4 separate regions of the Homo sapiens genome follow, and regions 2, 3 and 4 are each linked to region 1. Evidence: fine-mapped expression QTL. A gene starts in region 1. Each other region holds a variant in brackets. All regions are shown on one strand. Distances are from middle to middle. Region 1 holds the start of MYEF2 (myelin expression factor 2). Region 2 overlaps DUT-AS1 (DUT antisense RNA 1). Region 3 overlaps SLC12A1 (solute carrier family 12 member 1). Region 4 overlaps SLC12A1 (solute carrier family 12 member 1).

The links. PIP is the estimated chance that this variant, and not a neighbour inherited with it, causes the effect.
Region 2: its variant is the best candidate, but not a certain one, in a credible set for the expression of MYEF2 in whole blood (Lepik 2017, PIP 0.71).
Region 3: its variant is the best candidate, but not a certain one, in a credible set for the expression of MYEF2 in whole blood (INTERVAL, PIP 0.89).
Region 4: its variant is the best candidate, but not a certain one, in a credible set for the expression of MYEF2 in whole blood (TOPMed, PIP 0.60).

Annotation. Positions count from the first base shown.
Region 1 is chr15:48,174,135-48,182,246 of GRCh38, reverse strand. It overlaps MYEF2 (myelin expression factor 2), which reads left to right and starts at 3,952. Exons shown (of 17, transcript NM_016132.5): 1 at 3,952-4,170. The coding sequence starts at 4,010. It also overlaps a transcript of CTXN2 not described here. RefSeq lists silencers at 3,711-3,810, 3,981-4,410, 4,441-4,610 and an enhancer at 3,357-4,008.
Region 2 is chr15:48,308,691-48,316,802 of GRCh38, reverse strand. It overlaps DUT-AS1 (DUT antisense RNA 1), which reads left to right. Exons shown (of 3, transcript NR_186809.1): 2 at 1,840-1,908; 3 at 4,062-6,335. It overlaps LOC124903486 (a long non-coding RNA gene), which reads left to right. Exons shown (of 2, transcript XR_007064625.1): 2 at 1-79. Among named protein-coding and RNA genes, the nearest start is that of DUT, 19 kb to the left of the region's middle. The variant C/T (reference allele first, on the strand shown) is at 3,935.
Region 3 is chr15:48,262,836-48,270,947 of GRCh38, reverse strand. It overlaps SLC12A1 (solute carrier family 12 member 1), which reads right to left. Exons shown (of 27, transcript NM_000338.3): 18 at 3,247-3,387; 19 at 1,184-1,290. Among named protein-coding and RNA genes, the nearest start is that of SLC12A1, 61 kb to the right of the region's middle. RefSeq lists a silencer at 4,610-4,810. The variant G/AG (reference allele first, on the strand shown) is at 4,503.
Region 4 is chr15:48,210,314-48,218,425 of GRCh38, reverse strand. The region is part of intron 2 of SLC12A1 (solute carrier family 12 member 1); the gene reads right to left. Among named protein-coding and RNA genes, the nearest start is that of SLC12A1, 8.1 kb to the right of the region's middle. The variant C/T (reference allele first, on the strand shown) is at 5,041.

The DNA.
Region 1 (8,112 bases):
TGGTAGAGACCTTTGTATAGGATGTATTTTTGGAATGCTAAATGCTAAAAAAAAAGAACTCCTAAAGTAAGCAGAGCTGTGGTGTAATGAGGGTGTATTGGGGGTGATACAGAGATACGGAGGGAGAGAGAGAGAGAAAGGAGGAAAAGAGAAGAAGAGAGAGAATGGTAAATAGCTAATCGTCAGAATAAGATTAAACTTTACTTTCTACTTGATAGTAACCAATGTCCACATTTTCATCACAGAATGAACTTTCTATAAAAAGGGAAATACATATGTAGATTTCAAATATAAACCATAGTATTTTAAAAAGTTACGAATTCCTTTTTAAGCTTTAAAGAGGTAAATTTTTACTTTGTAAGGTTTAGAAACTTCATGCCTTCAAATCCAGCAATTTATATAGTGAAGCAAATTGACTTAAAAATTATACCATACTTTTTGTTTTACTTCATATTGTTGGTCTTTGCCGTTTAATTCTTTTTTCTTTTTTGAGTTTCTGAATACCCCAGAGAAGGTAATCTATTTATTATGAATTCTAGGGCTAGAATATCAGCACAAATATGGAAGTATTTTTAGAAGCTATTGTCACCATAGAAATGTTAGCCACCATTTTTGTCTAGTTTCTTTTTCTTTTAAATTTTATTATTATCCCTAAAACTTAATTCTTAAAGACAAAATAAATTAAAAAAAAGAAGAATGATGACATCCATTCTCTTCTTCATTGGTAACAGAACCCTGGGCAGTAAGCCCAGCCCCCAAATTATTTGCCAACCTCCCCCACAGATGAGTGTGTCATGTGACTAAGTTCTTGCCCATAAGCGGAAGTGTTGTGTGAGACTTCTGGATAGGTCCCTTTTTTTCTGGACTCCTTCTGACCTACAATGCCGACAAGGTGCCTCGATCTCCAGCAGCCATCTTGGGTCATAGGGCAACCTTAAGAATGGAAGCCTCACACTAGGATGGCGAAAGATTAAGGTAGCAGGAACCTGACTTCACGATGACTGTGAAGCTACTATATATCCTCTGGGATGCTCCTTCTGCATTTATTTTACTTAAGAGAGTAAAAATGTATATCTTGCTTAAGACACTATTATTTCTAGTTATTGTTATTAGCAGATGAACACAATTCCTAAGTGATACATATATTAAGGTATTAATTGAAAATATTTTGTGATTTCTAGGATTAGATTTCTAGATACGTGTAATAGCTTTTCCCCTATCCCGCCAGGTACACACACATAAACATGCATTCTAATTTGTAAGAAAGAAAACTAAGTGATTATGTGAAGTTGTACCAGTAATATATTTTGTGCAATTGCAAAGGATAATGCTTTTGCAATGTGAATCATGGGAAAATAAGAATTTGAGCATCACTTAAGAATTTTTCAATGTACCTACATGCACTAAAAAACAAACAAACAAAAAACAAAAAACCAAGGCCGGGCGCTCTGGCTCACGCCTGTAATCCCAGCAATTTGGGAGGCCAAGGCAGGCAGATCACAGGGTCAGGAGATGGAGACCATCCTGGCTAACACGGTGAAACCTGTTTCTACTAAAAATACAAAAAATTAGCCGGGCCTGCTGGCGGGCGCCTGTAGTCCCAGCTACTCAGGAGGCTGAGGCAGGAGAACGGTATGAACGCGGGAGGTGGAGCTTGCAGTGAGCAGAGATGGCGCCACTGCACTCCAGCCTGGGTGACAGAGCGAGACTCCATCTCAAAAAAGACAAAACAAAACAAAACAAACCAAAACAGTAGAGAGGAAGACAAGCAAATACAGAAATGGAATTCAGCAACAGAATATTAATAGTTTTTTCTTTATCTTTTGCAATTAATAGCAAGAAAGGAAGGAAAGATCAATCTATTGAGCAGTCAGATGGAATGGTAAAGATTAATCATTCTCTTCCCTTCAGAAGTTGCCTTAATTCTTTGTCTTTTAAGATCCAGCTCTTTTATAAGGCCCTCACCAATCTCTCAGTAGGAATTAACCTCTGCTCTTTATCAGGACTAGAACCAAGCTACAGCGGGTGAGGCATTTGTCTTGGGTACAAAAGTTAAAACTCAGTAATCAAGATAAATATTTTAATGGAATATTTTAATTGGCAAACTAAGGCATGTGGGCCAGTCTCCTGTTTTTGTAAATAATTTTTTAATTATACTTTGCTTTTATTTGTATTATAGCACTTAAATAGTACTTTTTACATTAGCCCTCTCCCAACAGGGCTGTACTCATTTTTGTATTCCTCATGTACCTACTACTCTGTTTGAAGCATAAAGGCCTCTTAAAAAAATCTTGCATTGAGTTGATTAAAGGATTTTTGCAAGAATATATTGTACTGGTGATGGTGGGGTTCAATTTTCATACTGAATTCAACAATAGCAAAAGAATAACAGAATGATGACTATTTTGAAAGTACTTATAATTTAGTGCTGTGGGAAAAATCACTTGGCTTGTCTTTGACTAAAACCCTGCTGAGCTTAGGGAGATAGAGAATTGTAATATTACATTATGTTCATATAGCACTTTTTCCTACATAAAGTGCTTTCTTTTAATCCTCACCTCAATCCTGTAAGGTCGGTATTGCTATCCCTATTTATTGTAGAGAGATTGAGAAATGAGGTGACTTGCCCAGGGAGTTATGGGCAAAAAGAGGCAGAGCTGGGGTTCTAACCCAGATTTTGTCTGTCACAATTGAATGCCCTTTCTGCGATTATAAATCTTATGTCTCAGAGTTGAATGAGAAACAATTTATACAGCAACTACAATAGCATTCTTATCATTAAAATGTTCTGATTATGTGTGTGTGTGTTTGTGTATGTGTGTGTGTGTATGTGTGTGTGTGATGAAGTAGCTGAACTTGGTATTTTTCGGTAGAGGGTAGGAAACTACACATTGAAAAGCCGAAGATGAAATTATGTTATTTGAGTATTACTTTCTAACTATAACTTTACCACTGATGTGTGTATGATATTCTGCAAAGTGACTAAACTGTACGTGTTTGCTTCTTCATGGAAAAAAAATTTGGGAAGGCATTTAAACTTTTCAGCTGAAAAAGGTTATGTCAATGTGAAAGATTATAGTACTCGAGAATTAGGAGTTGATTAAATTTAACGGTTTCCTTTTCATACTTAGGGGGAAAAATCTACGACTGTATTTTAAAACTCCATATGGCAATTAAATTTGAGAGCGTATAACTAACTACTTCACTAGAATTTCCATCAGTATACAATAAACACACAGTCAAAACCTCAAATGTCCATTATTAGCCCATCTAGTAGACGATATTTTATAATTATGGATTCCCCATATTGATTGATGTCCAGAGAAAAACTGCAGTCTTCTCTTACTAAGCTGATAGTTGAGTTCCTGGGAAATCCTCACCCCCTAAGAACAAATAATTCTCAAAGAAATTCAAAGTCATTCCTTTTGGTGAATTGCAATCAGTCATCAATAACTATTTATGGAATGTCCGAAGGGTGCCTAGGCATTGAAATGGCAAGAGACTTATATTTGCTTAATTCAAAGGATTTCTAAAGGCAGTCTGAGGACTTGCAAGAAGTCTTTAAAGATGCAAAGTGGTGTGTTCTTTAACTGCCCCTACCTGGAATGAATTGAACAGTCTGGGTGTTAGGGCTTTGATGTCTAATCCCGCTTTGCAAGCGAAGACTCCACTGGTGCCAAGCGACAGGCGGGCTGGTGGGCAGACATGGCACCACCACCGGGGGCTTTCAGGACTGGTCCAGCCCTCCCAGGCAGGTGTAGGGCCGACTGCAGCAACAGCGGCCCTGACCCCAGCTCCCATGGCTCCCCTCCCCCCGCACTCCCACCCCCCGCACCCGGCACACACCATCTCCCAGTCACCCAGTCTCGACCGGTTCTCGCGAGATCCGGGTTACTGAGCGCTCGGGGCCTTTTCAAATCGGGATCCGTTACCGCTTCCCCGGCAGCCGCCATTGTCGCGCTCGGAGCCCCTCAGCTCAGGCGGCCGAGGCGGAGGCAGCGGCGGCGGGATGGCGGACGCCAACAAGGCCGAGGTGCCCGGGGCCACTGGTGGCGACAGCCCGCACCTGCAGCCCGCAGAGCCGCCGGGCGAGCCGCGGCGAGAGCCGCACCCCGCGGAGGCGGAGAAGCAGCAGCCGCAGCACAGCAGCAGCTCCAATGGCGTTAAAATGTATTGTCTTTTCCTCCGGGAACCGGGGCGAGGTGGGGGGCGGGGAGTCTACCGGGCGGCTAGAGGCCGGGCTGTGCCCCGATGGGGGACAACCACCCCCAGACCCCGGCCCGCCCCCGGGCCATCGGCTTCCTGAGGAGCAGGTGCAGCTGGGCCGCTCCCAGGCCCTTCCCCGCCCGCCCCAGGCCTGGCCGCCTGTGGTCTGGGAGCCGGGGCTGGGGGCCCGGGGACCAGCGCTCTTCCCTGATTTCTAGCCCGAGACAGCGAACACCCCTCTTCCCTGACTTTGGTTAAAGAATCTTTGAGCAAAGCTCAGCGACCGCCACGGTTTGCAGGAAAATGGTCCCCCTTTAAGGACCAGTAGTTAGTGTTCATCACTAGGGAGTATCTAGGGATGACATCATCGGACATTTCCTCTTAACCACCGAGAACATATTTAAAAGGAATATTCCTGGCTTCTTTCTGAGCTTCACAAGTTTAGTGTTTTGTTGTTTTCTAAAGTGTATGTTCATTTTTAAACTGATTTATACCGAGAGGAAGTTTAATAATGTGCTGTTAGACTCTATGTTTTGTGTTACTCTTGAATTGGCTAGACGTACTTTAAAAAGGGAAATGTGCGATGTGCGTGGCTTCCCTTCCCACTGGGTAATGTGCGTCAGCTGTGGAGAGTATTTTTTTTTTTAACTCAGTGTATGATTATCTTAAGTTTGGTATAATAGATGGTTAAGATTTTTTTTTTCCCAAATGAAGGAAGACTTTTAAGGTCGCAGCTGTCACCAGTGCCTATAAAGAATTTAGTTGACCCCAATCCATAATAATTTCTGGTTCTAGGGAAATGTTATGCTCTCCTTTGTTCCTGTCCTGTGGGAGGATATGAAGTTAAGCGCTTACTTTCATATGCCTACCTCCTTAAACCTGAAGTTGAAAGTATGTTAATAATTAAGTGAAAACATCCTTTTCCTTCTCTGTTATGCCTCAGAGCAGAAAGCAATAGATATATGCTCACAGTAAAATAGACAAGGGAAAGGTCTTTCTGACCTTTGTATAAGCATGTTTGAAATTGTATGGTAAGAACTGGACCAGTCTGTGTAAAAGTTGGTGGCAAAAAAGATGGGGTAGCTCTCCCCAGCTCTTTGACACTCTTGCTCTCAAATGAGTTTGAACAGGATCGGCAGCATCTTCTAGGAGAATAGAGGTGCAGGTATAAGAGATTGGAACTTAGTGGAGTTTATTCCTGGATGAAGAGTGGTGCACCTCAGTAATTGAGGAACCAGAAAGGGAATGAAGTGCTTTCTACCATGCTTGCCAAAATGTGGGCTTTCTGGAATTTGGCATTAAAAATAGAAATGAAAACCGGTGGAATGATAAACTTAAAAATATGTGCTATTCATATCTAAACACGAGTATACATGCCACCTTTTCTCCTGAACAAAAAGTGCAGCCTTGAATTACAGAGAGAAGCCCTCCTATACTTGGGTATGATTAGTTTTGATATAGGGGAAGTTTGGTATCTAAACCTCCATCAGATTTTCTATTCCCTTCTAAAGTCTCTTCATGATTTAGCAAGACAGGAAAAGAGAAAGGAGAAAGGTGGAGAAAGAATCCTTTTCTAATTTAGGAAGAGAAAAATATAAGGTGAAGAAATGAAGAAATATTACTAGTAAATACAGATTATTTCCATATTGCTTATAATTCGCCTCTCCCTTTCTCTTTTTCCCAGAAGTTGAATCGAGTCCAATTTACTCTCAGGGATTTCTCTTACTGTCTATTCCATAAGAAGATTTGTGATGGTCCAGCATGAGTCATTCAAACTGAATAACTAGCGACCTAGTCCTTTTTTTTTTTTTTTTTTTTTTTACTTCGTGAACTAGTAGGAGTGGATAACAACCCCAATACATAAACCTTGAGTTGATTACCATATACTTTTAATAATAAAAATAATTCATTGTTGATTATAAAAATTACCATAATATTGCCCCAAATTATGTATTGGTTGGAATTGAACAGAGTACTGCTTGTCATCAGGATTGAAATAATATTTGCTGAGGTTAATCCATAGTTATTGAGGGTGGGAGACCACTATGTCTTATTCTTCTTTGTATTCTTAAGGCCTAGTAAATATTTGTGGAAGAAATGCAGAAGTGAACTTTCATGCTTATGAAACTCATATACAGGGAATTTAGTTTGCATATTCACACCTTTAGAAAAGATCCGTTTTCCAACTGTAGTCTTCTTCTTTAACGCCAAATGGTATACTAGCTCTCCTTTTCTTAAAAATGAATAGGAGGGAAAAGAGCAGTATTATTATAACTTTATTATTCATGTGTAATTAAGTATAACTTTGGAGTAGGTAGAGATTGAGAGTTATATTAGGGTACTATAAAATATTAAGCATTGGAGCAAGGTAATGTGTTCTTTAGCTGAGTGATTTTTATTAGGAATAAAGACTAGAACTGTTTCCCCCAGCTTTATTGAGGTAAATTGACAAAAATTGTATATTTTGAAGTGTACAGTGTGATGGTTTGGTATACAAATAAATTGTGAAATGATTACCACAATCACGCTAATTAACGTATCTGTTACCTCGCATAGCTACCATATTTTTTGGTGTTGAAAATACTTAAGATCTATTCTTTAAGCAAATTTCAAGTATACAGTAAATATGTTAAGTATAGTCACTATACTGTACCTTAGATCTACAGAACTTACTCATCTTATAACTGAAAGTTTGTGCCCTTAGAACATTTCCCCATCCCCTGCTGCCCTCCACCTCTGGTAAACACCCTTCTACTCTCTGCTTCTGAGTTTGACTTTTTTAAAAGTCTGTGTGTAAGTGAGATCATGTAGCATTTGTCTTTCTGAGTCTGGCTTTTTTCACATAGCCCAATGTCCTCTAGGTTTATCTCTGTTGTTGCAAATGGCAAGATTTTGTTCTTTTTGTAAGGCTGAATAATAATATTCCAGTGTGGATGTGTTGTGTAAACATAAAATATAATATATATCATGTTTCCTTTAATCATTTATCTGTCAATGGACACTTAAGTCGTTGTTTCCATATCTTGGGTATTGTGGATGATGCAGCGAACATGGGAGTGCAGATATCTCCTTGAGATAGTGATTTCATTTTCATTGGATATATACCCAGAAGTGGCATTGATGAATCATGTGGTAGTTCTGTTTTTAATTTTTTGTGGACCCTTGATGCTGTTTTCCATAATGGCTGTACCAATGTATATTCCCACCAGCAGTATCTAAAGGTTCTTTCTCCACGTCCTCAGCAACAGTTGCTATCTTTTGACTTTTCGATAAGTCATCCTAACAGGTATGAAGTGATATTGCAGTCTGGTTTTGAGTTGTATTTCCCTGATGAACAGTGATATTGAGCACCTTTTCATATACCTTTTGGCCGTTGGTATGTCTTCTTTGGAAAAATTATCTGTTTGGATCCTTTTCTCATTTTTTAAATTGGGTTGCTATTGAGTTGTATGGGTTCCTTATACATTTTTGATATTAATCCCTTATTGGATATATGGTTTGCAAATTTTATCTCTCATTTCTTAGGTTGCCTTTTTATTTTGTTGAGTTTCCTTTGCTGTGCAATAACTTTTTACTTTGATGTAGTCCCAGTTGTTTACTTTTGTTTGTGTTGTCTGTGCTTTTGGTGTCATATCAAAAAAAAAAAAAATCATTGCCAAGGCCAAGGTCATGGAGCTTTTCTCTTGTGTTTTCTTCTAGGAGTTCCATGGTTTTAGGTGTTATAAGTTTTTAATCCATTTTCATTTTGTTTTGTATGTGGATATCTAGTTTTCCCAATACCATTTTTTGAAGAGACTGTCCTTTCACCATTGTATATTTTTGGTGCCTTTGTCAAGGATTAGTTTACCATATATTGGGGATGTGTTTTTGAGTGTTTGTTATGCTCCATTGGTCTGTGTGTCTGTT
Region 2 (8,112 bases), 130 kb before region 1:
TGTACATGTATCCCAGAATTTAAAATAAAATAAAGTAAAATAAAATTTAAATTTAAAAAAATACTTGTGCTTTTATTTAGGACTTAGCCAGATAATCCAGGATGATTGCCTCATCTCAAGATCCTTAATCACATTTGCAAAAGCCCTTTTTCCATGTAAGGTAAAATTCACAGATTTCAGGGATTAGGACCTGGATATCTTCAGGGGCCGTGTTCAGCCTACTACAGTGTATCTAGCAGGATAGTTTTGTTTTAGATTTTTTCTGTTTGTTTGTTTTTTTGAGACAGAGTCTTACTCTGCCACTCAGGCTGGAGTGCAGTGGTGTGATCTCAGCTCACTGTAACCTCTGCCTCCTGGGTTCAAGCAATTCTCCTGCCTCAGCCCCCTGAGTAGCTAGGATTATAGGCACCCGCCACCATGCCCGGCTTATTTTTTTGTATTTTTAGTAGAGGCTGGGTTTCACCATGTTGGCCAGGATGGTCTCAAACCCCTGACCTCAAGTGATCTGCCCACCTTGGCCTCCCAAAGTGCTGGGATTACAGGTGTGAGTCCCCACACCTGGCCTTGTCTTAGATTTTTATAGGGAAGAGTAGACAAGTTATAGGTGGAGTAAATTTAAAGTTGGGATTGTTTATTTCTGTGTCTAGTTAGTTTCATGAGGACAAAACTTATCTCAGCTAATCATCCATGAGACAAAGAATAAAGTTAGAAGGTGTCTGTCTGACCTTATGTGCAGGCTCAGTTTAAAGGGGAAAAGTCTGGGTTTGACCTTGTCACAGGTAAACAAAGGAATCATCTACAGTCTTGTAGGAATCATGAGAAAGAGTTGGCAGTGTCTTGTCTAAGTCATATAGGGAATGGTGGTTGATTTCAGTTAGCCATTTCTAGAACACAGAAAGCTGGGGAGACTTCTTAACGATTGCTGTGTTCCAGGAGCACAGGGCTCCGGTAAAGTTCAACACTGTCAGCACCTTCTTATCCTTATGTGTTTTTCATAGACATCCTCACTGAGTACCCTAATAAAGTATTACTATTTCCATTATTCTCTGTCACACTGATACAGAACAGCTGGGCTCCTGGCTAAACCCCCTCCCCACCCCACCCTTAAGCCTGGAACCACAGCCCTAAGTGAAAATAGCTGACCCTGTTTTTCCACCCAAATGTTACTTTTTTGGCCTGCCACGCCCCTATCCTGTTGACATAAAAAGACTTCAACTGGCAGAGCAACACAAGCAGCGGAGCGGTGGGGGTACAAGCTGCTGAGCATCAAGACTATGGATAGATGTGGCTAACTTCAGACAGTGTGGCTTCAGGGAAAGATCACCTTCTTCCCACACCCATCCCCTTTCCAATTCCTTATCCTGCTGAGAGCCACTTATATCACCCAGTAAAATCCTCCGCATACACCAACCACCCTTCTATTCGTTCTTGTGGCCTGATTCTTCCTGGATGCCCGGGTACGGAGAGGGCAGGGGCTTGGATGCTGCTATAGGGCCTGCACAGAGCGTGCTCCTGCCAGAGAGGAGTAATGGGCCAGTTCCAGTGTTGTCTCCGGTTGCTGCACTCGCTTGCTCGCAGGCTCTCTTTTGGGAGGAGTGGCCGACAGTGGGCTGAGTGAAAGGAGCCTCTCCAGTTCCCGCCCACAAAGGGCATCAAGGTCAACAGAGTTATCCTGTCTCAACACTTTCTCTTTATTTCCTTCACAGTATTTTTCACAATTTGTAATTATTATGTGTAACTTGTTTTCTTGTCTGTCTAAACCTTTAACTTTTTGAGGGCAGGGAATGTGGATGCCAATATCTTAAGAGCTCAGAACAGTGTATCTTTGTGTCTTTACAGCCTGACACATTTTTGTTGAATCAATTGACAAAAGAACTGACACCAGATGGCCAATCAACTCAAGAGAAAGTGAGTATAGTAGTGAACTAAATAAGGATAAAAATAACAGTGATTGAAAAAAGAGGCTGGGCGAGGTGGCTCACGCCTATAATCCCAGCAGTTTGGGAGGCTGAGGTGGGCAGATCACAAGGTCAGGAGATTGAGACCATCCTGACCAACATGGTGAAACCCTGTCTCTACTAAAAATTAAAAAATTAGCTTGGCGTGGTGGCGGTGCCTGTAATCCCAGCTACGCTGGAGGTTGAGGCAGGAGAATCGTTTGAACGGGAGTGCGAGGTTGCAGCGAGCCGAGATCGCACCATTGCACTCCAGCCTGGGCAACAGCGTGAGACTCCGTCTCAAAAACATAAAAAAAAGAGTGAGGCTGGGTGCGGTGGCTCATGCCTGTAATCTTAGCACTTTGGGAGGCCAAGGTGGGCAGATAATTTGAGATTAGTTCAAGACAGCCTGGCCAACATGGTGAAACTCCATCTCTGCTAAAAATACAAAAATTAGCCGGGCATAGTGGCGCATGCCTGTAATCCCAGCTACTTGAAAGGCTGATGCATGAGAATCGCTTGAACCTGAGAGGCAAAAGTTGCAGTGGGTTGAGACATGCCACTGCACTCCAGCCTGGGTGACAGAGCGAGACTCCATCTCAAAAAAAAAAAAAAAAAAAAAAAGAGAGAGAGAGAGAGTCAGAAATCCCAGGCAGCAGGATAAGCATATTCAGAGCTCTGGAGAGTACAGAGTGTGTGGTGCGTCAGGGCATAGCTGGTGTGGAAGGGCCCTGAGCAGGGCAGAATGCGGCTTCATAGTGAGTCAGAGACCAGACCCCAAAGGAGTTTCATACTTGCCATGTCCCCTCAGTGCCCTGTATTAATTCATCGTTCCAACAAATATCTGTTGAATGTGTTCCATGTGCCAGGCACTGGTCTAGACTTTGAGGATATGGCAGGGAACAGAACAGACAAAATAAGTCTGACAACAGATAGAAGATGTGATTCAAATGAGTAGTGCCGAGAGTTAAGGAGAAAAGTAAAGCAGGGAGGGAGGTATGGGATTTAGACTTCTGATTTCAGAGAGGGAAGCCAGGGAAGGCCTCAGTGAGAACATGCTATTTGCTGATTGTGGGGCTGGGGGCTGGGGGTTGTTTTACCTAACTTGAAGGAAGTGATATCTTGGGGAAGGGCATTCCAGGCAGAGGACACAGCAGGCACTAAGGTCCCAGGGTGCAAACTCACCTGTAAGAAGGCCAGTGTGGTCTGAACAGTGACAGAGGAAGGCGTACACAGTTGTAGGTGTTGAAGTCGCAGAAATAGGTGGATGGGGTGCAGGGGTAGGGCCTTGTAAGCTCTTGTAAGGACAGTGGCTTTTCCATGGACTGAAATGGGAAGCCATTAGAAGATTTTGGTAACAGGAATGACAATCTCTAGTTTACTTGGCAGGATTGCTTGGGTTGCTATGAGGAAGAGGAGGAGTAAGGCCTGATGTGGAAAGACCTTTGAGAAGATGTTGAAATGAGGCAGAGGAGGAGCTAGGCCTGATGTGGAAAGACCCTTGAGAAGGCTCCTGCAGTGATCCAGGTGAGAAATGGTCCAGTGGCAACATGGGTCAGAGAGGCAGAAGTGGAGATGGTGACAAGTGAGTAGATTCTGGATATATTCTGAAGCCAATAGGATTTGCTGATAAATCAGATGTGCGTGTGAGAGTCAAAGATGACTCGAAGATTCATGGCAAGGATAGCATTGTCATGCATGGAGATGAAGGAAGAGTGTTAAAGAGCACCTTTGGGAAGGAAGAGTAAGAGCTCACTTTTGGACACATTAAGTCAAAAGTGCACAAATAATACTTTTTTTTAGTAGAATTCATTTTGTAAATGTATCTTTGAGCATTAGGAAATCACAGTATGGTGATCTGTTTCCAATGTGCGTGTTGTGTTAGCAGCTGGAGTTGTTTAATATTTTTTTTTGTATTTGTTTTTGTTTTTTGTTTTTTGAGACAGAGTCTTGCTCTGTCACCCAGGCTGGAGTGCAGTGGTGCAATTACAACTTAC[C/T]GCAACTTCCGCCTCTAGGGCTCAAGTGATCCTTCCCACCTCAGCCTCCCAAGTAGCTGGGACTACAGGCATACACCACCACACCTGACTAATGTTTGTTATTATTATTATTATTTTTTTTTTGTAGAGACAGGGTTTCACTGTGTTGCCCAGACTGTTCTCGAACTCCTGAGCTCAAGCTATCCTCCTGCCTCGGCTTCCCAAAGTGCTGGGATTACAGATGTGAGCCACCGTGCTTGGCCTAACATCTTTAAATACCTGTTATTTCTTACTCCTCTGAACTTCTCACTTTCCCTGAGAATAATTTTACCACCTCTTTGTTGGGCAGAAGTGCAATAGGAACATCAGAAAGTGCAAGTACATAATAACAGAGAAGTCAGTCTCTTTTTCTTCATCTCTTGGGCATCGAAAAGAGCAGATGATCCAGATTTGAAAGTCTGGGAAAGCCATGCTGTGTGAGAACAGGGGCTTGCATGACAACAGAGGGTTGGGCTTGAGCCCCCAGGGTCTGCAGCAGTCTCACAGTTTAGCAGTTACTTATGCCTTTCTCTCAAAGTCAACTGCTGAGTTTTGTCCCAAACTACCCTCTGCTGCAATATGTCTCCCAGGCTGAGGAGGAAATTAGTCTTCTTATCCCAGTTGTCATTGCTTGTCACCTTCTCTGAAGCAATGACATTCATGACCTGGTTCTTGGCCTCAACCTCTGAGAAGTTCTCCTTTCTGCATTCCTCATCTTAAATTACTTAACCTGAAAATATACTGTTTAAATCTTACACTGGAGCTCCATATACTCTGCTTAACTGCAGAAAGAGTCTGTCTATGTAAATTAATTTTCCAGATAACTGAAGCTTAGCCATCTTTTGATGCCAGCCATGTGGACGAGAATTTTTCTGAGGGTGAATTGCAGTGCAGGTATCCTTGCTTTCTTAACCAGGATACATGGAACAAAATTGAGCTTTTCTGCCATTAGTCTGTCCTCTTACAAAGTAATGATGTCCTCAAGCTCTACTGGGGTGTGTAGAATCTCTTTCACGTTTTTGACCTCAGATTGCTGCAATTTTGTGCTCTATATTTCCTTTGTTAAAAGTTTTTCATGTTTTGCTGCATTATCCCTGGTGTCACTTATGGCTAGTTACTGCTCATTTAACATTTTGTTGACTGAAAAACAATGTAACTAGAATTGTGTGCAAATGTTCTGTATGGAAACATCATTTTAGTACTTGAGGATCTCTGAGGTCTTTTTCAGGTTTAATTTATTTTTATGGTTCTAGATATCCCTCCAAATGAATATGATCTATTGTGCATGCACAGAGAGTGGAACTTTTTGGGGGACACTTCATGGACCATTTTTAACTTATCTAACTCCCAGCTTGGCTCTTCATAGCTGATATATATGATCTCTAGAAATGTGAGATAGCAATATTGAAGGCAGGATTCTAAGATGGCCTGTGTAATCTCCTCCTCTTGAGTCTGGGAGGGACCTGTGAGTATGGTGGGGTGCCCCTCTAATTATTAGCTTACTTTATAAGGAAAAGATGAAAATTTTTGCAGATATAATTAAAATCCTTAATCTGTTGACTTTAAGTTTGATCTTTTTAAAAATTATTTTATTTTATTATTATTTTTTTTTGAGAGGGAATCTTGCTCCCGTTGGGCAGGCTGGAGTGCAGTAGAGCGATCTTGGCTCACTGCAACTTCTGCCTCCCGGGTTCAAGCAATTCTCTTGCCTCAGCCTCCCAAGTAGCTGGGATTACAGGCACGGGCCACCACACCCAGCTAATTTTTATATTTTTAGTAGAGATGGGATTTTACCATGTTGGCCAGGCTGATCTCTAACTCCTGACCTCAGGTGATCCACCAGCCTCTGCCTCCCAAAGTGCTAGTATTACAGGTGTGAGCCACCATGCCCGGCCTTTAAGTTCAATCATAAGGGAGATTGACTAAAGTGGGCCTGACTTAATCAGGTAAGCCCTTTAACAGAGGGTCTAGAGTTTAAAGATTTCTCCCTGGTGGCCTTAAAGACGCAAGCTGCCATGAGTTCTATAGCAGCAAGAAAATTAATACAGCTGCCAATCACTTGAGCTTGGAAGAGGATCCTGAACCTCAGAGGAGACTGTAGCCCTAGCTAAAATCTTGATTCCAGTATAGTAAGATCCTGAGCAAAGAACCCAGTTAAGATATGTCTGGCCAGCCATAGGGCTCACACCTGTAATCCCAGCACTGTGGGAGGCCGAGGCAGGAAGATTGTTTGAGGCCAGGAGTTCTAGACCAGCCTGGGCAACATAGCAAGACCTTGTCTCTACAAAAAATAAATAAAATAAAATAAAATAAAATAAAAGATATGCCTGTACTCTCGACCCATGGAAAGTGTGAAATAATAAATGGGTACTGTTTTAAACCATGAAGTTTGTGATAATTTATTATGCAGCAGTAGAAAATTAATACACATCCCACTTGGGTTTTGTGTTTAAAAGGATGAAAGAACATACTATACTCATAATGCATAGATTCACACAATTCAGTCACATTATAATAATTACCCTATCCTACTATGGATAATATCAATTCTGAGTTTTATTTGGCCCAGAAAATAAAACTCAGAACCTATTAAGATTATACTTGGCTGAGTATGGTGGCTGCTGCCTGTAATCCCAGCATTTGGGGAGGTTGAGGTGGGAGGACTGCTTAAATGCAGGAATTTGTGACCTGCCTGGGCAACAGAGTGAGACCCCATCTATAGAAAAAGGAATAATAAAACGAAAAAATAGTTCAGCATGGTGGCTTGCACCTGTAGTCCCAGCCACCTGGGAGGCTGAGGTGGGAGGATCACTTGAGCCCAGGAGTTCAGAGGCTTCAGTGAGCTATGACTGCGACACTGCACTCCAGCCTGGGCAACAGAGACTCTGTCTCCAGACAAAACAAAACAAAACAAAACACAGCACAAGATTATACTTGTCTATTCCTGAGTTCCAGAAAGTAAAATATGCAATATGAACCTACTGACCTAAATAATGTCTGCAGGGCCATAGTGGTAAATCTGATGCAATATTTCTCTATCACTTTCTCCACCCAAGAAAGAGGCATATATATATTTTAAAAGATCTCATGTTTAAAAAAAAAACAAAACTAAAAACCTAAGCTTATCAGTAGGTATGTGATGGGGTCAACTTTTTCTTTTTACAGTGACGTTTTAGTTGCTCACTTATTTTACGAATAAGCACAACACAATAATGATGGTATAATATATTTTTGAGTGTTAGAAATTTATTATATATGACCTTCACAATATATGTCAGATCAAACATGAGTTAATCATTAAATACAGTCTGGCAGACAAGTAGCTTGTTTATGGATTTAATTATTTAAATGTTAGTTTTTGAGTAGTTATTATTGTATATAGTAAAAATGAAATCTCTTACTTGTCCTTCATTCAGTTTTCTTCTCCAAAGTCAACCCTAATTGGTTTCTTATGCATTCTTCTAGAGGTACACTATGCATTTACAAATAAATATTCAAAAAATATGAATAAGTAAATGGTAACTAATGCTCACTAAATTGGATTAATTAAATTAACTGATTTCCTAGCAATAAGATATATCTGTATTCCTAGAATACCATATTCCTGATTATAGTGGAATATTGTTTGAATACATTGGTAAAATTGAGTTGCTAGTATTCTATTTTGGATTTTCCTATGTTTATTCATACAAGAAATTGACTTGTATCCTATTTTTGTGGTCTGTCATATTTTGGTATCAAGTTTATGCTAGTTTTGCAAAATAACTGAGAAAGGGAAAGACAATGTTTTATCTTGTTCTGTTCAGCAATAGCTTAAATATAATGGTAATTATATTTTCTTTGAAAGTTTAAAAGAAGTTGCCTAGAAAAAATCCTTTGGGTTGAAACTTTTTTGAGCTAGATCTTTGACAATCTTCGTGTTTTATCCTGAAGTATTAGATTTTATCAGGTATTCTATTTCCTTTTGAGTTAATTTGAGTGGTTTATATTTTACTACAAATAGATATGTGTATTGTAATTAAAAATTTACCATACTAGAGTTTTAAAGGACATTCTTTCCCAAAGTTGAACCCAAAGTCCCTTGCTTATTTGTAAATGTGTATATTTATATTTTATCTATTCTTCTAAAACTAAAAAGAAGTTTTTTTATTTGATGTTAT
Region 3 (8,112 bases), 89 kb before region 1:
CTGGTTGAAAGGCTCAACTTTCTACAGTGTTTCTCTCTGTATGTGTAGAATTTGTTTTCTCTTATTCAAAGGAAGAAACCAAGCCAGGTAATACTTGAAGTATATATGTATACTCCAAATATTACATATTATATACTCCAAGTATTATGTGTGTGTGTGTGTATATATATATATATATATATATATATATATATATACACACATACACACATAAGTATTATATATTATATACTCCACAATTGTGTGTATGTGTATATATATAAATAATATATATATACTTGGAGTATATAATATATATATGAAATACTTTGGAGTATGTAATATATAATATATATAGTATAAAATATATAATACTTGTTTTGGAGTATATAATATATAGAGAAAGCATAGCGTTATAGTCATGAGTTTCAACTTTGAATTTGGATAGTCCTGGGTTGGAATTCCAGCTCTGTCACTAAATGCTGAGATTTTTCAGCATGCTACTTAATTTTTAATGTCTTTTTCTCCACTTGTAGAATGGGAAAAAATATTAGTACTTCCTTCGAAATCTTCTTATGAGAATTAAATGAGATAATACATGTTAAAGACATTAGCCTGCAGCCTGCTAGTCCTTTAAGATCTATCATTATTACTTACATCCTAAGTCTCCTCAAATATTTAGCTATTAGAGGTTATGTACCACCGGAAACTCACATTCTGTGCACAAGCCAATGATGCTCCACCTGGTAGCAGAAGCACCTGGCATATGGGAGCCTCTTAGCAGAGGGAGATATAGGGCTCTGGGATAGTGAACGAATTATCAGAGGCTCAGAAGAAGACAATGACTGAATTGGAGACACCAGCCAACCCAAGATTCCAGGTGTTTTGAAAGAAAAATTTCTCCTTGCTTAGCTGTGCTTTCCTTTTAATCTTGTAAATAGATTTTAAGGTTGTAACTCTAAACATTTACTTTTTTCTCTGACACGGGCGTTTCTCTCACCCTGCCTCCTCTGACACTCTGATTCCCTCAAACTCTATTATTGGTGGTGTTTTTTTCACCTTGGAAAAGAAGTCAGAGTACCAGGGGAATGTACTCTTCTCAGGCAATTTAATCTGACACAACAGTGTTATGTGCAGTACAAGTTATGTACTGCCCTGCTTAGTGCTTTATAAACAAGAACACGTCTTGAAAGCCATCACTTACTGTATGATTCCCACGTAGTTCTCAATCTCTGTCAAGGGAGCTTTCCTCCAGTTTTTCTTATATCCAATCACCAGAGTGTTTGGTTTCATTCTTCCTAAGCCTGAGGCCTAAACAGAGGACATAAAAATGTGGGCAATCCTTACCGTACTGGGAAACTACCATCACAAATGAAAAATAATGTCTAAAGGAGCACTGAAGTAATGTTCTGAAGATCCTGAAGATTAGATTACATTTTAGTGCATGTCCTTCATGCCCGTACCCAAGCATAAAATGGAAAGATTAATTCTAAATCATCCCAGCTATAAATGGATTTTAGATGACAGAAATGTAGCTTTTCTAAATTAGCAGTCATTTGCATTTCTTCTGACACAGTCATTAAAATGGTTCAATAATTTAAAATCAAGTGAGGGTCAGCTTAACTGTTGGTATGCATGTTGTAACTTAGTGGTTCAAAGCTCAATTCCACCTGTTATATCCATAATGTCATTAGCAATAAAATCCATGTTTGGAAAATTCTTATGTACAAGGATCACTAAAATCTCTACTTATGTTATTTATTGAAGAGTGACTGAATTATGTTTCCAAAACCTAATTCTTTTATGTGACAGTATCATTAATAGCCATCTTCCATATCAGAAGTGTTGTTTCCCTTCATTAGATGACAGCATACAGCTTCCAGTTAATCAAATTTAATTCAACAATATTACTAAGCACCTATGAATTGCATAGTGCTATGTCTTGTCCTTTTGCCATGGTTCTCCTGTACTTCACTTTTTATGTGAAGAAATTCATATGAATGTATGCATGTTCAAATTTTCTACCATTTCTTCTGGATTCTAATAATTCTTTTTCATACTTGTGTCTTTTCTTTCCCTGCTCTTATTTTATGTCCATATTCCCATTCCTAGTTGAAAATATTATTTTAAAATCTTGTATGATAATTTTATAATAAATGACTAATAGTGACAACATATTTAACCAAAGAGCTATTGAAAACTAACTTGGTACTGAAAGAAAAATCAGCATCTTGCAATAACACCTATTTCCATGGTTTAGCAAATTAATAACAGATGAAAAGAGGCTCATTGTGGGTAATAGGTTTTGCAGAAATTGTTTCTCTGTACGTGCATCTACTTCGCAAGTGTTCTTAAGGGAAATTAGGCACAGGATTGCATCAAATACTCTTAAGCTCCAAAATATTACCAATTAAGCTTAACCAATATTTTTTCTTTCCTGCCTGCATGCGCATCTGAGTTACCTGGATGCAGTTCTGACTTCTGACACTCTGAAATACAGTAACTCTGAAAGCCAAATGCACCATTTCATATATATATAATTAGGGTTTTCAACCATATTAAACCCAAAATGCTCGGAAAGCCAAGCTCTACAATTTCTGAGGGTCTCTTGGATTGTTTTAAGGATTCTTTGTCACTCTAAATTATGACGATCAGAACTAGGAAAAGATTTTATGTACTTACTATAGCAGAGATGAAGGAAAAAGGAAAAAATAAGGGAAAAAAGATGTGAGAACTATGGGATTTAAGGTTGAGCTGTAGAGATTATTACATTTTATTCAACATTCTGGAAATAATTCAGGAGGATAGGGAGATTTTATGCCCAGATCACCATGCATTAATTTAGTTGGTCTAGCAGCTGCCCTAACACCATTTGCAAAAGAAAAAAGGAAAAGAATGCCTGACTTGAGCATTGCTATATGCAGTATGAGATATAAAAATAGTTTGAAGTTTCAATAGGATCCTGAATGTCGTCAACCACCAGAACAAATTTGCATTTCAATAAGTACGGGGGCAGAATGTATGCTGGTGGCCAAAGGCAACCTCATTTTCCGTTTCCAGTGTATCATTCATAGTTCATTGTAATAGAACTTCTCTGCTTTTGTTCTAGCTTTGCCTATACCCAGGAATTCAAAATAATCCCTTAACCATCTGCACTGATCTCTGATGCTTGGCTGCCTAACTACAGCTGTTCACTTTGGGAGCCTTATTAACATGGAGCACTAATTGTCTTTTGCCTCTGTGCTCATTCCCTCAATGCAGCCTTACCTGAAGAAGACTTCGGACACCATCCCTGAAACAGTCTGCCGCCACTGCAGCATAAAAAGCCTTGATTTTGTTCTTTATAAGCCAGGCCTGTTTTTTCGCCATGCCACTGTTCATCTCCTTAACACACAGTTTGCGCGGTCCCTGTGTGACACAATGAAATATTGGTTAGAACCCTGCTATTATATATCACATTGCTGTTGTTTTCTAAAGGACAAAAATAGCCAGCAATGCCCCATTGAGTTAAGAAATGGGAAAGAGGGAAAAACACCTCACTGAACAGGGTTCCACAGATTCAGCCTTTTGGAGATGACCTGCGGTATTCACACCATTCATTTTCTACCCAAAACATCTAGACTGATTAACATCTGCTTAATTTACTGCCTGACACTGAATGAAAGGAAGAGTTGAGGGCAACATGACACAAGGAAAATACTGAAAATGTGACTGAAGAGGCTTAGGATAAATACACAATCAACCTTTGACTCATTAGCGAGAGCCACTTTCAGGAACACGAAAGAAATCTCAGCTGGAGCCTAATTTCAAGAAATGGACAGAGCTCCATGGGAGGTAGAACATGGTGACCTGCAAATCCTGCCATGAACTGCACATCTTGTCAATTCTATTTGGCTGATGCGTTGCTTTTTCGTGTGGCAAAAATACCCTTATACCACTTTTCCCTGTGTAATGTTGCCACACTTCCATTCAAATACATTAACATTTCCTTGTCATTCAATGAATTTGGTGGGAACAAAGGTTTACGTACCTATGACCTAAGAAGAGTGGAAGAGATTAAGAGGGAAGAAGACAGGTGTTGTGATGGTTGATAAGGCATTTTATAATTTCAAGATTTAGTTCTGGAAACACATTTTTAATGAAAAATTCTATTTTTATTTCTCCTTCCTTAAATGTCCAAGCTAGTTCTTTTCTTCTCATGATGTAATTCAATCCAAAAGTTATTTCTGATTATCTGCCATATGTCTGACAGGGTACAAATCCATTTTCCCAGGAAATTCTTTTAATTTATAGAGAGATTTGTATTTTGTTGAGATGGCTTAGATTTTACATGAATCACTTGGGATCTTGATAAAATGCAGCCTTGTGGGTATTGAAGCAGGGCTCAATATTTTGCATTTCTAACAAGCTCCTGGAGGCAACAGATGCTGCTGCTCCTTAGACAGACCACACTTGGAGTCACGGTCTTAAAGGGTCTTAGATTGGAGAGAAAGGACATTGGGATGCATGAAAAAAAAAAAAAA[G/AG]CCCAGGCTTTGCGGTCAGACAAAACAGGTCTCAGATCTAAGCCTGAGGAGGTAATTCCTTATCTCTGAGCTTTTGTATCTTATCCTTAAAATGAGGATAAACTCTTGCTCGTGCAAGGTTGCTTTAAGTAGTAATAATAAAGTACCTAGTGCAATGTCATCAAAGCCCCGGATGTGATTTTACCACTGTGCTTGCAGGAACACTGAACTGTGAGTCAGAATGTTGGGTTGAGATCTGGCACTGACTGGCTGACACCCTGGGTCTGCCATTTGTCCTCTCTTGAGGTATGTTCTACATTGATAAAACTCAGGCAATTGCCTAGGTCATCACTGCCCAATATGATAGCCTGTATGTCCATGCTGCTATTGAACATTTGAAATGTGGCTGGTTCACATTGAGATATGCTGGATGCATAAACTACACACTGGATTTCAAAGTCCTACTACAAAAAAGAATGTAAAATATCTCATTAATGTTTCTGTATTGATTCTATATTGAAATTACAATATTTTGGACACACTGGGTTAATACAATATTATTAAAAATAACTTTACCTATTTCTTTTTCCTTTTTAATTGGCTACTAGAAAATTTTAAATTACATATATGGCACATAATATATTTCTATTACACAACATTCAATCTCTGGGGTCCCTTCCATTTTAATATTCTATTTAAATTGGATCAGACTCTTTATATTCTTATTTTTTCCAGCATATTTCCTAGAACCTGCCAACTTTTCAAAACAGTTTGGTTGACTTCCCATTAAAGGAAAATTTAAAAACAAGAAACTTCCATGAAGATAGAAAAGATAGAGAGATTGGCAGGGTAGTTACTAAACTAGATGACCTAGTCTAAGGAAAGATATGCCATTATGGATCAATTTAGCTCAGGTTTCCAGATTGTCAATGCATTTTGAATCACTAGTCCTTCTTTGAGCATTCTAAACTTCATCAACTGCAAAAAAAAGAAAGAATATTTTATTCAAGGAAGTTCAGTGGTTACAGCAGCCATTAGATAGAAGAATAACAAACAGGAAATACTTTGAACCATCAGTGTAGTGAGTTGTACCACAGTGACTGTGAACCCCTGGGGAGAATGGCATTTATTTAAATAAACACAGTCTAATGTATGTCTGTTAGTATTATAAAAATCCAGATTAAACATTAATTGTGACAGAGAGATTTACTTTAATGCCTAAACTTGCCATATTGAGAAGTCATAAAAATGTTTCATGCAGAATCTCTCTTTGCTAAAAACGATTATAACATCATTGTAGCACACTTATTAATGTGAAGCAAGGAAGGCTGCAATACAAATGTGGTAAGAATAAAGCAAACTAGCAAAGAGAAAAGACATACTGGAATACAATTATTCAACATTCAAATATGCCATAGTTACAAAAATGAATTTTACTACCCCATTATAATATTATAGAGATTAGCTTCAGTTGGGATCCAAAATATGAGTATATAAATTAATTCAGGATTCAAACAAAGAAGCTTTAAAAATCTTGTATATATTATAACTTTGATATTAATTGAGAAAGGGGTAAAGCATTTCTAATTATGTAGTGTGGAGAAGTTGATGTGATGTTACTTTAAATACGTGACTATCATGAAAAAGAGTTTGTAAAGGGGTTCCAACCCCATTCGGATCAAACAGAGGAATTCACCAAGTGCAGTATTCCTTCCAACTTTTTTCTTTTTTTTAACATTGAAAGTCTTATTAGTCTGTCTTTGTTTTCATGGATGCTTTGGTTGGAATTGTGGGAAAGAAAATTTTTCCCTTTCTGATTTGGTCCATATTATCTTACCATACATGCTAGTGCCCATTCATAGGTCATTTCATTCTTTCAATATTTGGTCATGTCACTATTTTATTAACATCATAACAGAGGCTCACTGATAAAAAAAATAAGATGCATCTAGAAAGAATACATTTTTTCCTTGGTGGATGTGAAATTTGAGATTAAGAGGAGGCTGAAAGATAGAAGAAGAAATGAGAATTTAGTTTTCCCTGGGTTATAAGGGCTTGAACTGCCTTCCTTATGCAGTTCAAGAGTTAAGAGGTAGGTGTCTTCTGTGAGATTTATTGAGAACTCCTCAAACAGAGAATTCAAAGAGAGCCTTAGGTTTTCTTAAGATATTTTATAATTTTTTAGAAAAAAAACGAGAAAAAGAAACAGGGTAAAAGTCTAAGAGCCGGTCAAAGTCCATCCCTTTCCTCCTTTACAGGAGAGGACAATCAGGTTTAAAGTAACATTAATGAATAAGAAAAACATGAATGAAAATAGATTTACATTTTGGTATCCGTGTGTGAAATGATGAGAAGAATACCCATAAAATTCAGATAACATTGCCTCTGGGAACAGAGAGAACCAGGGGTCTGGAGTGGTATTAAAAGGGGCTTTAACTTGATCTGTAATGGCTTATTTCATTTAAAAAGTGAGTGGAGGGCCGAGTGCAATGGCTCATACCTATAATGGACTTTGGGAGGTCGAGGAGGGCAAATCGCTTGAGCCCAGGAGTTGGAGACCAGCCTGGGCAACATGGCAAAACCCTGTCTCTACAAAAAATACAAAAATTAGCTGGGTGTGGTGGCACATGCCTGTAGTCCCGGACACTGGGAAGGCTGAGGTGGGAGGATTGCTTGAGCCTGGGAGCTCAAGGCTGCAGTGAGCTATGATTGCGCCATTGTACTCCAGCTTAAGTGACAGAGGGAGACTCTGTCTCAAATAAATAAATAAATAAATAAATAAAAATAAAGTGAGTAGAAGCTTCTATAACCAATTTTTTTTCTTTTTTTAGGCAGGGACTCACTGCATCTGGCCCAAAATGTTAACAGTCATTAATTAGGAAAAGTAGAATATAAATTAAAGGTCTCATTTAATTTTATATAGTGAGCCATATGAAACTGCCAGTATCAAACGATTTTGATCTATAAAAATGCAAATTTTATATGATTCAACCTAATTAATTTTTTTAGTGTTTCAAAATTTAAAAACAGAATCAATCTTTTTAAAAAATTCTTATTTCTTCAGCCACCAGCACAACATAATGTACTTGATAAAAGATGCCACTGTAAACCTGAAAGCCTTTTGCAAGGTAAGACAAGCAAAATTGAGAAAAGAGGTAAGTGGCGTGTTTTTGGACAATAATGACTTTATCTGATTTGTGTTCCAAATCCCAGGTCAATGGAATCGACTTTCAATTCAATTAACTTTTGATCCTTAAATGTATATCTGTTTATTCATTTTAATAAAAAAATTCCTATTTTTAAATGTAAAATTGAGAAGTATATGAATAAGGAACTGCTGCAGTATGATGCCTTTGCACCTGGGAAAGGTAAGTGTCAACTGATCCCATAAGACTTCTAGAACTGAACATAGTGTGCCCAGAGAATTACAGGTACATAAATTCAAATTAAGTTATCTGGGATGATTGGTTTGGATATCTCTGCATCTACTATGAATGACATAAGTGAGGAAACTCATTGACAAAGGCAGTGCTTATATGTGTCAGGATACATAGGGTAAAACTGGTGGAGGATGCAACTTGCAACTTTTAACTAATAACTTACCTTTTGCTGAACCTGTTGAACTTGGCTA
Region 4 (8,112 bases), 36 kb before region 1:
CTTCTTCTAGCCTGTTCTTCTCCTTGTCTTTTTATTTATTTGCTTTTCCTTCCCGAGGTGAGTGCATTTTCTTTGTCTTTGTAAGGATTTCTCCTCAAACTCTTCTTTCTTGAGACCTTGTTCATGATACTATTGTGACACTTGGATAAGCAGCATAATACAGAGTCATAAGAGTCATTGTGTGACAAGTGAATCAGAGAAAGATTCAGCACTTAATTACCATTATTATAGGATGATTCTAAATTGTGGGTTACTTTTTCTCAGTACCAGCCAAAGGCTTGGCATGTAGCAGGCCATCAATAAACAATGCTGAATCAGCCAGGTGCAGTGGCTCATGCCTGTAATCCCAGTACTTTGGAAGGCTGAGGCAGGAGGATTGCTTGAGCCCAGAAGTTTGAGACCAGCCTAGGCAACATGGCTAAACCCTATCTCTACAGAAAATAGAAAAAAAATTACCTGCGTGTGGTGGCATGCACCTCTAGTCCCATCTACTTGGGAGGCTGAAGTGGGAGGATTGCTTGAGCTAGGGAGGTCAAGGCTGCAGTGAACCACAGTTGTGCCACTGCATTCCAGCCTGGGTGACAGAGTGAGACCCTATCTCAAACAAACAAACAAAAACAACAATAACAAAACAATGTTGAATTCAGAAGGTGGACTTGAAAGTTCGTGATCTCTACCCCTTAAGAGCAGATATCCTAGTTTCTTATCCATTCTTGCCTCCTACTTCTTTTATCTTCCATCTCTATGGGACAGCTCATTTCTTATTGTTTCTTCTGGGTAGGTCACATTTAAAAGGGAAGAAGAAGGGACTGAATCCTAAGACAGATTATTTTATTATTTTCTGACAGTATTGGGAAAAAATGGAATAACAGAGGAGATTGAAGTTAATAATTAAAATTTAGCTTTTAATTACCTGAGGAATATGTTAATCTTAGATATCCTCAGTCCTTATTTGCACAAATAATTGAAAGCTAACATAATGTATTCACACCAATGTAAGAATAAACGCAGTCCAAAAAATTGAGGCTAACATAGTGGGGCAGAAACTGGTCATCTATACCAGCTATAAATGCAAACCAAGTATGTAATTCAAAATTTTCTACTTTTTAAAAAGGAAAAAGAAATTGGTGCAGTAATTAGGTTTAGAGATGGACCCTTACATTTTAAAGATATACTTAATCTTTGGAGAATATCATATTTCTAATATTTGCAATATAAGTATTTATTAGCAATAGTTGCACCCCAACTTGTAGGGAACTGAATCACAGGAGTGTTTTAGTAATGTATTTTACTTAATAGAATATCTATAAAATATTACTTCAATATATAATCAGTATAAAAATATTAGGAAATATTTTACATTCTGTTTTTAATACTAAGTCTTTGATATTCAGTGTGTATTTTCCACTGGCAGTACATCTCAATTTGGACTAGCCATGTTCCAAGTGCTCAATAGCCCCATGTGGTTAGTGGCTACCATATTGGACAGCATAGGTCTATGCAATGCAGTCAATTTCAGATGCATGAAACATTTGAGGCTGTTTTCCAGTCCATTAAAAATTCTGTTTTTCTCTGAAAGAATTCTATACACATACGGCAGCTGAATAGGTCAAATGTAACTTTCATTTTTTTCATAACTGAAATGTATAATCAATGAGAGCAGGGAATTGAGGAATGTGTTAAAATGTCCATGACTATTGAAGGGATTATTTTGTTAGGAGATCTATTTATTTAGTTTGATTTGAGAAAAACTTTAAAAAAAATTGTCAATATTCTAGTTAATCAAAATCCCATAGCCAGACCATCAGTAGTTACTCACTTTGGGAGAGGGCAATTTTCTTTGTGTAGATTAATTGGGGATCCCAAGAGACACAGCCTTAGTTGCTTGCCTTTTTTAAAGATGGTCTTGGGAATAAAACCTATGTTTTCTGATTAAACTTGAAGATTTGGTCTGGGAAATTGCTCTGCTAGCTGATAAACTCCAATGGTGATTGTGACCCTTAGATATGAATTGATGAGAATATCCAAGACTGTAAACAAATCTTACAAAGTAGGCTAAAGGATGAATAGGGTATTTAAAATTTCCTCTAAAATGAACTTTCCTTCCTGATGGATGCCCTTCCTGGTCACAGTTTAATGGTTCTTCAATTTATCACTAGGATTTCACAATATGATGCAAAAAGAATATTCTATGAGAGGATGACAGGGAAACCACTATATGTGCAAGTTAGTAAAGCAATCATTTTCTAAATTATTCAAAGGTGTAGTCAATGTAGGGTGTTCAACTCTCCCTTAGGTATTAATAATATGTTCAACCTGCTAGAATTTCAAAGTTTTAAATATATTTATACCATAGAGGGGAAAAAAACCCCAAATGTATACTTCTTTTGTTGACTATTAAGGTCTGACAGTAAATTTACAAGCACAGAAGCCATTTCCATTGCTTACTCTCATGTAGGAGCCAAAAAATCCTGCACCGTATAAACTAGGATACTTGGAATCTAGTTTTGGTTGTGCAATTCATTCAGGGTACGTCCTCCATCAAGGTGTTTAACCGTGCTTGAATACTGCCAATAAGAATAAATCCAGTGGATTTTGTGAAAATCTTATCTTGAAGTAATTTACTCTAAGGCAAAATTGTTTTTCTCTGTTTGCCATCTTACAGTTCTGACATGGCAAAGCAAACCTTTGTTTCACTCTTTAATAAATGCCTCCTTAGTAAATCAGAACAGCAGTTGTAAACTCATCATCAAAGTACTGAACATGACTTTGGGTGGAGGGTTTGTGGGGACTTGATGGCTATGAGCTGTGTAGCAGGTGGCCTGCAGTCTCCCAGCTGGTTCATGTTCTTGAGGCCAAAGTCTCAAAGACTAAAAGTTTTATGATTACTGCCTGAAACCAGTTTTTCCCTTCATACATTGAATTAATTTGTTTGTTCACACTCCCATTACCATAAATGATGACCCATAACCTTTTATAAATGTATTCTAAATTATGTAGCTTTAGGGAATGATTATTTATTTACTAAGAATTTTAACTGTGTGTTAAGGATTCAGGAAAAGTAAAATAAAGTATGTTTAAAAAATGAAAAGAAAGGAAGACCACTTGATAACAGATTATCCCCACTCCAATTTTGACAACTAATGAATCTTCAATCACATGCAGTTTAAAGGGCAATGAGTTCTTGATAATGAAAGATTAAATTATTTTATTTAATATGTAATGTGATTTTTCAGACCCCAGAAACATATCAGATACCTTTATAGCTATTATCAAAGCTGAGGAAAATAAATATATTTGTTCTTTAAGTTCCAGCTAGATACTATTTGTTACTTACATCTTTATGTCTATCATCAAAGCAGGGAAAATAAATATATTTATTCTTTAAGTTCCAACTAGATAATATTTGCTACTTATACATTCTTTTGAATTTTGATCCTTTAATCTCAGGTTGATAGAATTTTTAGACCACCACCGAGAGACAGTTCCATAAATATTCACACCTAGATGATCCCCCTGTTGTTTTAAACTTTCTTTTATTATTGTCATATTCAAACATATGTAAAAGTAATGAGAATAACAAAATAAATCTCAGGTACTCATTATTGAGTTTCAACAATGATCAACATATGGCCAAACTTGTTCCACCTAACCTAAGCCCCTCCCACTCCTGCCACTCAATTATCTAAAAACCAATCCCAGTAAGAACCAGATGATTCCTAAGCTTCATTTCAGAATGAAAAACATATGATTCTAACCATATTTCCATACCTTACTGATCAATATTATTATGTTTATACATTTCTATCCCTTTGTGATAAAAGGCAATATTTTAAATTATGAAAATGAAAGTCTTTTTTTCTTGTTTTGAAAGTTATTACACATTATGCCTATAAATCACTACCAATGGTCACAATTTGTAATCATAGTGCATTTACTATAGCTGAAAACACATATCTCACACACAAATTGACTTGTGTTTTTGATAATTTAGGACAAAAGTTAGCTATGTGCAATAAACTGGCATATGAAAAAGAAAATGGAAAGGTTCTTAATATTTTCCAAGTATAAGTTTAAGGGAACTACTGCTCTTCTTGCCATGTATTACTAAACTATTTATAATAAAAAATTAATTGTTTTTGTTTTTGTTTTTTTTCCCAGAGATTGTTTTAATAGTGTGAGCTCCCCGGGGAACTGGCCCTGAGTACTAAGAAACTCTAACTAAAGTATCAGAATGAACTCTTAGTTGCAGAGGTTCACTCCAACAAATATTTTAAGGGTGGCTTCTGGTCACTGGACTTTAAGGCATTTATTGCTTCAATTTTAATGTCTATTTTATTTGGCTGTTGTTAGCTTAGTAATTATTTCTAATTTCAGATATCCCCAATTTGAATGCTAAAGTTGCAAATTTGAACTTTGAAACACTGTAGAAAAGGTTATTTTCTAGAGAAAACATTCGTACATTTTTGTCCTTTTATAGAAGATAAGCATTTAATGTATATTTTAATACATTGATTTATGTGGTTTAATGTTTGTTAACTTGACTACATTTCCTTTATTCGTATCCATAACGATGTCGTTTGACTTATAAAATTCTAGAGGAGGCTGGGTGTGGTGGCTCACACCTGTAGTCCCAGCACTTTGGGAGGTTGAGGTGGGCGGATCACGAGGTCAGGAGATCGAGACCATCCTGGCTAACACGGTGAAACCCTGTCTCTACTAAAAATACAAAACAAAAAACAAAACAAAACAAAATTAGCCGGGCATGCTGGCGGGCGCCTGTAGTCCCAGCTACTCAGGAGGCTGAGGCAGGAGAATGGTGTGAACCCGGGAGGCAGAGCTTGCAGTGAGCCAAGATTGCGCCGCGGCACTCTAGCCCGGGTGACAGAGCGAGATCCCGTCTCAAAAAAAAAAAAAAAAAAAATTCTAGAGGAAAGAGGTCAAGTCACTTTAACTCACTTTACACAGAAACTCTTGTAAATACATGCTTAATAAATGCTTTTGATGGTGACAATGAAAATGATTGAGACATAATTAATT[C/T]TGTAGGACAAGCAATACAATCTTTTGTCACAGTCTCAGAAAAAAGGACTGAAACAAGGAAGTACCTCCTGCTCAGCCCATCATGACAGAGTGTGATTTTCTTCTTCGTGCCTGAGTCCCACCATTCTCTACAGCTGTTGAATGAGTTAATGAAAAGTGCCAAGGGAAAGCAGACTGAGGATGGAAAGTAGAACTGAAGATCAAGGACTCTGGAGTCCTGCAGACATGGGTTCAACTTATGAGCATGTGACCTTGGTTTCTTGACCTTGGAAGTTCATTGACTTTTGCAAGCCTTTGTTTTCTCTTCTAAAAGATCCACAGCATTTTATAAAACTTTCACCATCCATAAAAAAGCAATAATAATAGTACCTTCCTTGAGGGGTTGTTGTTAAGGATTGAGTGAGAATTTTTTAAGTGTGAGCACAGTGTCTGAAACATAACAAGTTCTCAACAAAAAGTTGGTTATTACTACACTGCATTTAAAGTTAATGCTTTTATTTACGAATTATTTGTAGTTGTTAACAGCATAATGATCCAAATATAGTCATTTCATTGATTTTTTTTTGGATTAGTTTCTATAGAGTTAGCTTCTTTAAGAATAATATTTGTCTTAATTTTATAGTATTTTATACTTTTCATAGATAGCTTATTTCAATGACACATGGCTTCGATAGAAAGTCTATATATTTCCTTGAATCCTTTTAAATTATATTTTTCTGAAATGCTAACAACAATGGTGGTTAGTAAGGCTGAAAAGGAGTTCCATTTTGGTTAGTCCTGTAGTAAGGAATTGGATATGAAAAGTTGGTCACAGGAATTAGGCTGGATACTGAAAGCAAAATTCTCTTTACAAAGTAAAGGCACTAGATTAATCTTTGCCAGATGTCAAATAATTATTACATATGCTTTAATACGGAAAGATCTCGAGGGTATGTTTGGTAAAAACTGCAGAGTGCAGAACAATGTGGAAAATACGTCTGGTACATGTTTGAAAATAAATATAAACAGAAAGTTAGATTGATAGGAATCCAGATATTTATAGATATATGTGTATGTTTATATAAGCCTAGAACATTTCTGGAAGGATTTACAAGAAACTGTTAGTAATGATTGTCCTGGAGAGAATAACTGAATATTGATGTTAGAAGAGAAACATTTTATTACATATTTTTTAGTATTTGTTAAATATTTTATTTGTATTTATTTTTCTGTTAAAATAAAAAGCTAGTATAAAAATTACCACTATCATCATCGATCATTTATTGAATTCTTACTCATTGTAAGGGTAGACTTTATACTTATAGAAACTAATGTTCACAAGCATCTTGCAAGATAAGTAGAAGTTATGTAGTTCATACAATAGCTTGTAGAGAGCAAGTAAAGGACAGTTGTTTCTCCTGCTTTTAAGTAGAGTTTTCAGAAATTTATAATTAACGGTCACCAGTATAGGTATTTAGCTCTTTACTAACATAGATAATAAAAAGAATTTCTTCAATTACGATCTCAAGTCATTGGGATTATAAATTCTGTCAATATCTATCACAACTAGAGTTTCATTTAAGGTAGAGCCTTAAAATAATGTCTTTCAAACCTGTTTTTTATTTTACCTATTAGTATAATTTTGTCATGTAACTTTTTTCTCACTTGGAAATTATAACCAAAATTTACGCAAAATCCAACTGGTTTTCTGACTAACCATGTTCTGCCATTCGGTATGAATGTGCTATTGCTATTATAACTTTTAAAAGCATTCTAATCATAGTTACAAAAAGTATTGTCTAGCTTGTACTGTGTCAATTACCTTCTACTTTTAAATGATTTAAGTAAACACTATTATTTATATTTTTTGCATACAAAATCTGTGAAGGGTCTGAGTATAATCACATAATGTTTGTTCTGTTGATGATTTCTAGTTGTGATTTGAGGAACTACCATAAAAATGTCAAGGGCCACAAGGAGGTGGCAGCACAGCTACAGCACATTGCAGGTTTTCACTTCTTATATTTGAGGGGGGAAAAGTAAGGAGAGTAGCTGAGTCAAATTCATTAGCAAGCAATAAAAAGATAAATTAAAGAAGGCCCAGACTGCTACACATGGAGAGCCAGGCTAGGCCATACAATTTCAGCAACACTAGAATGGGCCTGGCTGCAGAAATGTGCACATTGTAGATTCTGTGGTTGAATCTGAATTCTACTCCCAATTTGGCTATGTGGATACCTCTTCATGATTTAATCAAGATGAAGGGTCCTAGATAACTGAGCATCAAGTCTGTAAAAGAGTAGCTTATTACTATACACTTTCAAAATGATTATTCAGAGCTTAGGCCTAATTTTTAATATTTTAATTTGCCATTCCTTTGTGTCTAAGAAAAAAAATGCTTTAAGTCGAAGTTCAGTCTTTAGTTTCATTTTATGTCTTCAAAAGTGATACAATATTCCAAACAGCTATTACATTTATCTAATGCAGCTATAACATTCCTACTGTGTGGTCATTTAGATGGCTTTCTGTTTCTTTTTTTTTTTGAGATGGAGTTTCACTCCTGTTGCCCAGACTGGAGTGCAGTGGCACTATCTCAGCTCACCGCAACCTCTGCCTCTCAGGTTCAAGCAATTCTCCTGCCTCAGTCTCCCAGGGCCAGGATTACAAGCATGTGCCACCATGCCTGGCTAATTTTTTTTTTTTTTTTTTTTTTAAGTAGAGAAGAGATTTCACCAGTTGGTCATGGCTGGTCTTGAATTTTTGACCTCAGGTGATCCACCAGCCTCAGCCTCCCAAAGTGCTAGGATTACAGGCATGAGCCACCACACCCAGGCTTTAGATGGCTTTCTAAACACCTGTTCCTTCAGAGCTTTTCTCCCTTTATTGAAAGATTTACATAAGCCATGGCTTTTGCAATTATAAATAAGCTACTTTTCTCTGTCGGGAATGTCAGTCCTAAGAACAATGTGAATTTATCCCATTTCTTTTTTAATGAAGTTAGAATTCTATTTTCTTTTGTTGTAAATTGGGGAAGTAGGTGAATGATAATATTTAAATTGTGACACTAACTTTAAAAAAGGAGGCAGATTTAAA